Homo sapiens: one gene and its partners. The protein of the gene in region 1 purifies or fractionates together with the protein of each later gene. This does not show direct contact. Each region holds a gene or a part of one and is shown in the gene's direction. Other genes may lie near its edges. The genes, in order: SPDEF, MYO5C and MACIR.

Evidence for each region.
Region 2: the proteins of SPDEF (region 1) and MYO5C purify together in Homo sapiens (affinity purification with mass spectrometry; 3 studies listed by BioGRID and IntAct, with this or other methods). This does not show direct contact.
Region 3: the proteins of SPDEF (region 1) and MACIR purify together in Homo sapiens (affinity purification with mass spectrometry; 3 studies listed by BioGRID and IntAct, with this or other methods). This does not show direct contact.

What each region holds. Positions count from the first base shown.
Region 1 is NC_000006.12:34,542,730-34,546,329, reverse strand, and holds part of SPDEF (SAM pointed domain-containing Ets transcription factor), read left to right. Parts: intron 1-1,845; coding exon of another isoform or gene 1,846-1,874; coding exon 1,875-2,310; intron 2,311-3,600. UniProt on the Homo sapiens protein: May function as an androgen-independent transactivator of the prostate-specific antigen (PSA) promoter. Binds to 5'-GGAT-3' DNA sequences. May play a role in the regulation of the prostate gland and/or prostate cancer development.
Region 2 is NC_000015.10:52,226,152-52,229,976, reverse strand, and holds part of MYO5C (unconventional myosin-Vc), read left to right. Parts: intron 1-663; coding exon 664-844; intron 845-3,360; exon of another isoform or gene 3,361-3,479; intron 3,480-3,825. UniProt on the Homo sapiens protein: May be involved in transferrin trafficking. Likely to power actin-based membrane trafficking in many physiologically crucial tissues.
Region 3 is NC_000005.10:103,261,609-103,265,433, forward strand, and holds part of MACIR (macrophage immunometabolism regulator), read left to right. Parts: intron 1-2,285; exon of another isoform or gene 2,286-2,398; intron 2,399-3,825. UniProt on the Homo sapiens protein: Regulates the macrophage function, by enhancing the resolution of inflammation and wound repair functions mediated by M2 macrophages. The regulation of macrophage function is, due at least in part, to its ability to inhibit glycolysis.

The sequences.
Region 1 (3,600 bases):
TTCAGTGCTTTGATTAAAGCCTTCCCCCCAACTGGCCAGTTACCTTTAAAGCAAAGATCCTCAAATTTGAACATGCACGAGAATCACCCAGAGGCCAGTTAAACCAGACTGCGGAGTCTCCCCCAGAGCTGCTGATTCAGTGGCTGTGAACTGCCTGAGAATTCAAGTTTCTAGCAAGCTCCGAGGTGGCGCTGGTTCTGCTGGCCCAGACGGCACATTTGGAGAACCACTGCTTGAAACTATAAATAACCCTCGAGAAAGGACACAAATTAACTTGCCCTTAACAGGTTTATCTGTTCCTTTCCTCCTCCCTAACTGGTTCTCTGTATTATTAGGAGCGTATATCTGTTGGTAATCTTCTGCCTCTGGCTTGACGTATTCTTTGTGTGTGTGTGCGTGTGTTTTGTTTTTTTTTTCGAGACGGAGTTTTGCTCTTTCACCCAGGCTGGAGTGCAGTGGCACGATCTCGGCTCACTGCAGCCGCCTCCTGGGTTCAAGTGATTCTCCTCCCTCAGCCTCCCGAGTAGCTGAGACAGGAGAATCAGGCACCCACCACCTTGCCCAGCTAATTTTTGTATTTTTAGTAGGGACAGGGTTTCACCATGTTGGCCAGGCTGGTCTCGAACTCCTGGCCTCAGGTGATCTGCCCGCCTCGGCCTCCCAAAGAGCTAGGATTACAGTCACGAGCTACTGCACTGAGCCTGTCTTGATGTATTCTTAAGTCTCAGGCCCCCACATCACTGCCATCCCAGAATGTCCTGGGGTTTCAGTGCTTGCGCACCTCTCCAGTCCCCCTTCTCACCCAAACTGTGCACTCTGCTATTGGTTTCAGGGAAAAGGGCCTGGGCAAAACCAAGCCGGGGCGGCCCGTGGGGAGCAAGGCCTCTGACTGCTTGTGTTGAGGCCAGATGGTTCCCCCGGAGGGCCTTGGGGCAGCAGTGAGGAGCAGGTGGCTGAGTTGCTAAGGGTTTTAGGTGTTCCCTGGAGCCCTGCCCCATCTCACAACCACCCTGGCTCCTCCTGGAAAGCCTGGCATGTGGCACTGCCTCCGGGTGGCCGCATGCTCCTCCAGGCATCGGGGAAAGTAGAGAGCACTGGGAGCTGGAAGGGGCCCTGGGGGCAGCACCTTCTGAGGGAGGGTAAGGGGAGGTGGGTACCATGCACCCAGCCTGGGGTATTGGGAGACACACACCTGTGAGCTCTTGCTCAGTGGCCACCTTGAGAGTGTTGAGTTTACTTAGATCCCCCAGATAGCCCTGTGGGAGGGCAAGGGCTGGCCTACTCCCCGGCGTGTGGGAGGGTTTCTACCCCGCCTTGTTCCTCTCGTCTTTCCCCTGCTGGTGAAGATGATAGCCACCTTTAGGATGGTGGCCTCTGCCTGCCACTTCCACTCCTATCCTTGTCAAAGGCAGAAGAAAAACAAGCTTTGCTATATCAGGAAAGATTTGGACACTGAGGGCCCCTTGTTCCCACCTCAGTTTGCTCATCCGCCAAATGGCGCAATCATGCCTTCCATTGTGAGGGCTGAATGAGGTCAGGAACCTCAGAAGGCTGTTTTAAGCACAGTACATGTGTGGAGCTTTGCTGCTCCCAGCCAGCCTGGCTTCCTTGGGGATTGAGGGAGCGATCTATTTCTAGTCCTGCACCCACTCCCACCTCGCTGTCTTTCCCAGCCAGAAGGCCTGTCTGCCCAACCATGTCGTGGCTGCCCAATGACCCGGAAGCCCCCAACTCTGTCCCAGGCCCAGCCCACTGTCCACAGGGCCCCTCATCCCCATAACCAGCTTAGCGGCCCCCACAGGGATGGAGAAGCAGTCAAACCTGAGTCCTCTTTCATTTCCGTAGACACAGCCGCCAGCCCAAACAGCAGCGGCATGGGCAGCGCCAGCCCGGGTCTGAGCAGCGTATCCCCCAGCCACCTCCTGCTGCCCCCCGACACGGTGTCGCGGACAGGCTTGGAGAAGGCGGCAGCGGGGGCAGTGGGTCTCGAGAGACGGGACTGGAGTCCCAGTCCACCCGCCACGCCCGAGCAGGGCCTGTCCGCCTTCTACCTCTCCTACTTTGACATGCTGTACCCTGAGGACAGCAGCTGGGCAGCCAAGGCCCCTGGGGCCAGCAGTCGGGAGGAGCCACCTGAGGAGCCTGAGCAGTGCCCGGTCATTGACAGCCAAGCCCCAGCGGGCAGCCTGGACTTGGTGCCCGGCGGGCTGACCTTGGAGGAGCACTCGCTGGAGCAGGTGCAGTCCATGGTGGTGGGCGAAGTGCTCAAGGACATCGAGACGGCCTGCAAGCTGCTCAACATCACCGCAGGTGAGCCCTCTCCATGTGCCTGCTTCCGTAAGATGGGTCACAGGCAAGGCTGAGGTCGCTGGGGTGGGTCGGGGCACTGCTGGATGGACTCTGGCCACCTCTGGCCCAGCCTCGGGCAGCTTTGGGGATGCTGGCACTTCTACACACAGTCAGCTGTGAGCCTGGGCCAGGAAGGTTTCTGTCCACCTCTAGTGTCCCAACCATGCCAGCCTAGGGTCCCCACTGGTAGGTGCTGGATGATATGAATTCAAGCTCTGTGTCCCCCACCTCCTCTTGGACTTCGCTCTCCCCTCATTCACTCTGCTCCCGCCACACTGGCCTGTTTGCTGTTCCCACAACATTTGCTACGCTGCTGCTTCTTCAGCCTAGAGCGCTCTTCCCCCAAATATCTGTGTGACTCACTTCCTTCAGGTCTTGGCTCAGATGGCACCATCCGCATGAGGCCTTCCCTGACCCCTCCATTAAAATTGCTGCCCATGAGCACAGGACATGGTAAAGAAAACAAACAAAAAAATGAAAAATAAAAGAAAGAAGAAAAATTTCTGCTCACATCCCTACCTGCTGTTCTCACCTGCTTCCTCTCATAGCACTTACACTCCTCGGACGTGCCGCACCATATCTGTTGATCTCGCTCACTCTCTGTGTCCTCCACTAGAATGTACACTCCACAAAGGCAGGGATTTTCATTTGTTTTGCTCATCAATCCATCCCCAGATGCTAGGATAGCACCTTGAATATAACTGATGCTCAATAGACAGTTGTTCAATAATAAGCATTTCTTTTTTTTTTCTTTTTCTTCTTTTTTTTTTTTTTTTTTTTTTTTTGAGATGGAGTCTTGCTCTGTTGCCCAGGCTGCAGTGCAGTGGTGCAATCTCGGCTCACTCACTGCAAGCTCTGCCTCCCGGGTTCAAGCCATTCTCCTGCCTCAGCCTCCCGAGTAGCTGGGACTACAGGCGCCCGCCACCACACCCGGCTAATTTTTGTATTTTTAGTAGAGACAGGGTTTCACCGTGTTAGCCAGGATGGTCTCGATCTCCTGACCTCGTGATCTGCCTGCCTCGGCCTCCCAAAGTGCTGGGATTACTAGCGTGAGCCACCGCGCCCAGCCTCTTCTTTTTTTTTTTTTTTTTTTTGACAGGGTCTCGCTCTATCACTGAGGCTGGAGTGCAGTGGTGTGATTTCAGCTCACTGCAACCTCTGCCTCTGGGTTCAAGCGATTCTCCTGCCTCAGCCTCCTGAGAAGCTGGGATTACAGGTGTCTGCCACCACACCCTGCTAATTTTTATATTT
Region 2 (3,825 bases), on another chromosome or scaffold:
GTATTCGCTGAAGGAAACTGGCCCTTCCAGGGGACTGCATGGAACCCGGGGGGTTGGGAATACAGTGCCCCAAAACCCAGTGTGTCTTTTAAGTTCAGCCTCCCTAGCCAGTGTGCCCTGTGCGTGATCACTGTAAAGCCACACCTTTCAAATCAGGAGGTGTAAGAAGTTGTCTTTAACCTAAGGGAAGAGGAAACAGTTTGCTAAAAATAAGGCCATTACCTGCTGGAACTGTCACAGTAGGTTCTAATTAACTTGTCTCCTCTTGTTGTTTTCAAAATGATGTATTCTAATTCAAAGTAAAGACTGTAGAGACAATTCTAAATTATTTTCTTCTTTTTTAGGGGGTGTTGTGGGGAGGGTCTCACTCTGTCACCCAGATTGAAGTGCAGTGGCACGATCTCAGCTCACTGCAGCCTGGACCTCCTGGGCTCAAGCGATTCATCCACCTCAGCCTCCTGGGTAGCTGGGACTACAGGCGTGCTCCACCACACCTGACTAATTTTTGTATTTTTAGTGGGGACGGGGTCTCTCTTGTTGCCCAGGCTAGTCTTGAACTCCTGGGCTCAAGGGATCCGCCTGCCTTGGCCTCCCAAAGTGCTGGGATTACAGGTTTCAGCCACCATGCTCAGCTCTAAATTATTTTCTTCTTTTGCTGCGTAGGCTTCTTGAAAAAAGTTTTGAACTGAAAACACAAGACTATGAGAAGCAGATTCAGTCTTTGAAAGAAGAAATTAAAGCTCTCAAGGATGAGAAGATGCAACTCCAACACCTGGTGGAGGGGGAGCACGTCACTTCTGATGGCTTGAAGGCGGAAGTGGCCCGCCTGAGCAAGCAGGTCAAGGTAGAGCGGCTCTCACGTTCAGCCCCGCCCTCTGGTTACGTCATTTGATTGCAATTCCAAGTTCCCACAGATTAGACAGCTAAAAGCATCTGTGTAAAGGCCACAGGCAACTGGAGCCTGATTCCTTCAGTCCTTCCAACTGTGCACCTCCAGGCTGCCTTTGATTTAGCAATCATTGTATTCCATATTTTAAAAGTCAACTTTCTAACTTTTTTGAAATTACATTTATGTAAAGTTATTTAAATATGTCGATGTAGAGAATACTCCCAAATTAGACTGTAAATTGAGGTGAATCCTTATTATATAATCCATCACTATAAATCTATAAACACCTGCATTAAAGTTAAGTTACCTTATTATCAAAATCTTTCATTTAAACTGTTATTAGAAAATTTACTAAAACAATTATCCAATGCACAGTGTGGTGAATGTAGTTAATAAGAGCATATTGTACATTCAAAATTGCTATGAGTAAATCTTAAATGTTCTCACCACAAAAAATGACAAGTATTTGAGGTGATAACATGTTAATCAGCTTGAATTATTCCACAATATATTCATAAATTATAACATCAATAAAGCTATAAATTTTCAATGGTAGAAATTTTTAAGTAAATTTTTATAAAGCTGAGAAGGAAAAATCACATAGAATTTTTAAAACTGCATAATGATATATAAAAATATTGTTACCTGCCGGGCACGGTGGCTCAGGCCTGTAATCCCAGCACTTTGGGAGGCCAAGGCAGGTGGATCATGAGGTCAGGGGTTCTAGACCAGCCTGACCAACATGGTGAAACCCTGTCTCTACTAAAAATACAAAAATTGGCTGGGCGTGGTGGCAGGTGCCTGTAATCCCAGCTACTCAGGAGGCTGAGGCAGGAGAATTGCTTGAACCTGGGAGGCGGAGGTTGCAGTGAGCCGAGATCGCGCCACTGCACTCCAGCCTGGGTGACAGACCGAGACTCCGTCTCAAAAAAAAAAAAAATTGTTACCTGTATCTATCATTAAAAATATATAAATATTCCTGGGCAATTTAATAAAATGCTCTAGAGAAAAATGAATGAATGGATGAAGTAATGATCCATGCTTGGACAATCAAGGCTTAAGTGAATTGTTTCCCTACCAGAAAAGTTAAACCTGAGTGTACCTACGTTCTTAAATGTAAGACATTTCATCATTAAGTTGGAAAGCTTTTAAGCTTCTACTAAATATGTGAAATACATATTAGTAGAGTATTTGTAGGATTATGGAAATAGTCTCTGTAATTGTCATGAACTAGCCATGCGTGGTTTAGAAGAGCTTTTGGAATTGCATCCGGGTGGCCACTGAATTCCACAACTGAAGTGTCTGTCTTTTCTGGGCCCCGTCCCCTATTGTTTAAAAGTAGGAGGTCAGACCACATGATCAGGAAGGGTCACTTTCATTCCTGTGACTGCTTCACTCTTAGCAGCCACATGAGCCTGATGTCAGTCAGTCTGTGGGAGTCCTGTCATCTGGCTGAGGTCTGAGGTCTGTATCTTAAATGTAGGAACTTGTGAGACTGCGCTTGCAGAGAGGTACCAGTAGGTGTCACTCACTTCCTCTTTGGTAGCTAAGACTGGTTCACTCTCCAATGTGATCCATTAAGATTACTTGGGGCTGGGCACGGTGGCTCAGGCCTGTAATCCCAGCACTTTGGGAGACTGAGGTGGGCGGATCACGAGGTCAGGAGATCAAGACCATCCTAGTTAACACGGTGAAACCCCATCTCTACTAGAAAAAAAAAAAAAAATTAGCCGGGCGAGGTAGCACACACCTGTAGTCCCAGCTACTCGGGAGGCTGAGGCAGGAGGGTCGCTTGAACCTGGGAGGTGGAGGTTGCAGTGAGCCGAGATTGCACCACTGAACTCCAGCCTGGGTGACAGAGTGAGACTCCGTCTCAACAAAAAAAAAAAAAAAAAAATTACTCTGGGTTTTTGTGTTTTGTTTTTTGGGTTTTTTTTGAGACAGAGTTTTGCTCTTGTCACCCAGGCTGGAGTGCAATGGCACCATCTTGGCTCACTGCAACCTGCCTCCCAGGTTCAAGCGATTCTCATGCCTCAGCCTCCCAGGTAGCTGGGATTACAGGCATCTGCCACCACACCTGGCTAATTTTTTTTTGTATTTTTAGTAGAGACAGGGTTTCACCATGTTGGCCAGGCTGGTCCTGAAGTCCTGACCTCAGGTGATCCACCCGCACTAGCCTCCCAAAGTGCTGAGATTACAGGCGTGAGCCACCGTGCCCAGCCTACTCTGGTTTTCAAAGAAAATAACTCATGATCATCAAGTTATATGTGTTATAGTCAGTCTTAAAAGCCTAAGTAAATGCAAATCTGACTTGGAACATTTACTGAAACATTACAAAGAAAAGCATGGCCTTCAGGATTTGGATAGTCCTGAGTCCCCCATAAACCTGGCATGTGACCCTGAACGTGCCAGTCAGCCTTCAGTTAAATGTAGCTGCTGTTTGCTAATTGAGAAAAGATCACTCTACTTACCTCATAGGCCTGTTAGGAGGATTAGGTCTTCTAGGTAAAGTGCTCAGCACATATCAGTTTGATTCTCCTGCTTACTCTCTGTAGAAACAGGGGCTGGAGCCCTTAAATACTCAGGGTAACTGAAAAAATATCAAGGAGAGTTTATTCACCTCTGCTGTCCCTGAAAGTCCTTATATCTCCCTCAGATACAAAGCAAAAGCACAGACCTGTGATTCTTATTCAAGCTGAGCTCACAAGGGAGAATAAAGGCAGAATACTGCCTCTTCCCCACAACCAGAGCTGCCCAGGCCACCTCCTTCCCAACAGCCAGCTAACTCCCAGACCTCCTGGACTCACCAGTCTCTGCCACTGCTCCACATCTAAGCTGAGCTGAAGCCAAAACCCACAGTTATGAAGGTGGCAACTTTGCCCATGTCCTTGCACTCAATATTTTATTATCCATTAAAAGAGAATTTTAGCCCGTGA
Region 3 (3,825 bases), on another chromosome or scaffold:
GCCACTCTGAAAATACTACCTGTTTTTCTTTTTCTTTCTTTCTTTCTTTCTTTCTTTCTTTCTTTCTTTCTTTCTTTCTTTCTTTCTTTCTTTCTTCCTTTCTTTCTTTCTTTCTTTCTTTTCTTTCTTGAAAATGTTTTGGTGGGCTTCAGGTTAGGGCCATGAAAAAAATGAAAATAAATGTTTTGATAGCTAGAATTAGAACTCACAGCTTCTACTGTACCAATTTCTCTGCCTAAAATTTGTCCTTTCATAATATAAACTTTAATGATGAATGTGATTTTTATTTACCAATATTTGAAAGGGCTATGTGCTGGTCCTCATATTTATAGTCTTATGATTTGTGATCAATGTTGTTAAATTTTTTCTTACTGCTGTTTTGTTAGTGATCTGTGCTGAAGCTTGAGATTCACGACTTTTTTGTGTGTTTACGAATTTTGTATGGACATAAACATTTCCAAATGGAGCTTTGTATATTTTTGGGAAAGGCACTCCCTTTTTTGGGTTCCTAGTGCCATTCAGGTTTACTGTTATTAGAAGGATTTATTTCCATGTCTGCCCTCCCCTCTGACCCAGTCTCAGGCCATCTCTTTATATGTGCACCAGTGCCTGCATAGTGTGGGGATATATAATAAGACTTAAGAAACATTGTTGAATGACTGAATAAGTGAATATCTAAGTGGGTACACCCGAAGAAAGAACTCAGACCTGTATGGGAATTCACCGTTCAAGCAGAAGGGTGTTTCCCTTTTTAAAAAAGTCATTGCCTTTCCATGTTGCTTTTGAGTAGGATAACAAATGAAACAGCCAAACTGAGACACTTTTGAGAGTTAAAGGGGGTTGCTTTCAATAATTATGCCAGGGTATTGACTATGAATTGAGATATATAGTCACTCTTCTTTTGAAAGGCATTCTTATTTACCTGTGATAATAACTATCACCTGAGAAATTCGATACATTTGGTAGTTAATGTTTGCAAACTTTTCTATTTGTAGAAGCTCCACTTGCAGTGAAATGTTGGGTGTCTTTTGCTTAGTCACCCATGACTTTCTTATCCAGAAGTCTGTGGGCAGCTCTTGGCCACTGCTTGGTTTTTTCCTATTTTTATTGCTTATGGGATAATGTCCCACTGCATTCTGTTTCAGCTTCTTATAACTGGAAGCATTTATTATATCTTGTAGCCTTTGCTCTATTTACTTCAGTCTTTGTTTTTATGCAGCATTTAGTCTATCTTCTAAGAATTTCACATGGATTCCTTTTCCTCTTGCTGACTGTTTTGGAGAGGAAATCTGTTGATATCTTTCCAAGCCTTCAGTGTTTAGAACATTGGCCAAAATCAGTTGCAAGCGTTAGAGAATTATAGATTTTTAAAGTATTCTAAAAATGTGTGTTATTTGAAAGGTACATGTTTTGGGAATTTTTATATTACAATCTTTTAATTGTTATAAGTGGGAGATGGGGGTAGAACCCTTACTGTAATTTTGTAGTAGATTTCTTTATGGGTTATGTCTTAAAGAAAACGTATAATCTTATACTAGTTAGTTTCTGGTCTTGTTCTTTTTATTTATTTTTCCCTCTTTTTCACCATATACCTCCTCCTCCTCCTCCTCCTCCTCCTGCTCTTCCTCCTCCTCCTCCTGCTCTTCCTCCTCCTCCCACAAAGCAGGAAGCAGAGTCAAAATTAGAAAAAGTGAGAATGTAATGGAGCTTCTGCACCTTGGTTTTCTTGTGTTGCTCCCTTGGACATTGTGTTTATATTCTATTTTTGGCTTGGCACTGGCATAATAGGAATAATCAGTTACTACTCTTTGTTTACTATGAAATTACCGATCATTTCCTAGATTTACACATCAGCTCCAGTGCAAGAGTTGGGTAATGTCTTCAAGGCTCCTCTGCTTTCAAATCCAGACTAAAGTTTTAGTTGATTTCTTTCTTTTGATGTTGAAAAAGAAACTCTTTGAAAGTGTAAATATTTTTCTAATGCATTTAAAAGCTTAAAAAGAAGAATATGTCACCAAATACATGAGGCAAATTATATGAAAGTTTGAATGAGATTTAAGACTGTCAAAACTATTCTTTAGGATTAAGACATTCAGATATTTCTAATGTTCCTCCTGCTTGTTTTAAATTGACATTTATAAAAGTATAAATGAAATCTATCCCACTTTGTGATAGATGTAGTCTTGAGAAATAAAGCGGAAATATATAACTGTATTTGATATCCAACCATATAACCAGACGGTATTGGTTGATACCTTTTTTTCTGTCGCATAATTTATGATTTTAGAAAATAGAAGCTCATAGGAGAAAGAGTCCATGATTCAGAAGGATTTTGTATAAGACTTTCCACGATGTGCCACCAAATCTTAATATTTTTCAAGTTGGAAATAACCATGCAGCTAAGTAGTTCCCCCAACCATTTCACAAATGAGGCAATAAAGCTTTTAGATAAAGTGCCTACCCATACACTTAAAATAGATTTTCACTTATAGAAATTACTTGATATACATTTTGCGGGATCATGATTATTGTGTAAAAGGCTATACATGTTGTCTTATCATTGAACAGAGGCCAGAGTGTAAAGTAAATGATCTTTGGAGTCAGACCAATTGGGGTTCCAATTCCTGCTGTGACTCTCATGTAGTATCACTTAAAAGAGTACTTTAAAATAGGGCTACTACTAAAGAGTACTTTAAAAATGGGATAATAATATTTTCTTCATGGAGTAGTTAAGATTAAATGATATAAATTGTATATCACTTTTGACATAAGGAAGATGCTAAAGAAATGTTCGTTTTTAGAACTCCTCTTTCCCATTAAAAATCCATTAAATAAGAAATGCAGATGAATGTTATTAGTATTGGGGAAATTCTTTGGGATAATTATATTAAATAAACATTTTGTCTGTAGGTAACAATTTTTGTTACAATTTACTGTGTGTTAAAACCAGAGGCTTCATTGGTGGGGTAGAATCAAGGCTTACTTTTCAAGATTTTTTGGTTCCCCAATTTGAGAATAGTTGGTGGCAAAATACATGAAAGGGAGTGTTTCTGTTATCTACATCTGAAGAAGTTGCAAAGGCTGATAAACATGCTAGTTTCTTGGAGTGACAGTTCTTGGTGCATTGGCTCCTTCCAGTTTCTCAAGCTAAAGAAGCACATATTAAACTCAGTAATTATCTATTTCCTTTGGATAAAACTCTCCTGTACTGGTAGGGAAAGTAATAAAGTTACAAACTCCTTGCCTTTTTTCTTGCAGTTTGTCTTTTGTTTGATAAGGTATTGTACTGTTGACACTTCTTGGGCTCTGTGCACCTACATAGATAAAATGAATCTACTCGCTTCATTTGACACCCCTCCAACTGCTTCTGTTGTTTAACCCAACAGAAAACCAACAACCAAAGAAACTTTTACAGGTGGAAAAGGACTTTGGAGGGTTTTCCTCGTCTCAGCAAATTAACCCTATTAACTAGGGAGGTAGGAGATAAAGATAGATTCTCTTACACATTAACTTCCCAGGTAAGAGAGGGAAGGCACAGAGGAGATGCTAGAAACCTTAAGTAAGGTGGTAACTATAAAAAAGTGCTTTTTCAGTCACTCTCTTTTTTTGTTGTGTTATCCAAGAGACTTCTAATCATTTGCCTCGCATCAGTCTTATGAAAGATTTACATTGTTGCTGCTTTATGGCTACAATGAGTCGATACCAAAAATTAATTGCATAATAATAGCATCACACGTTGTAAAGAGCTTTGCAGCATGTAAAGCATTCACCTACCTCATTTCATTTGATCCATCTAACAACTGTATTAGGGAGGAAGGGGGGTTA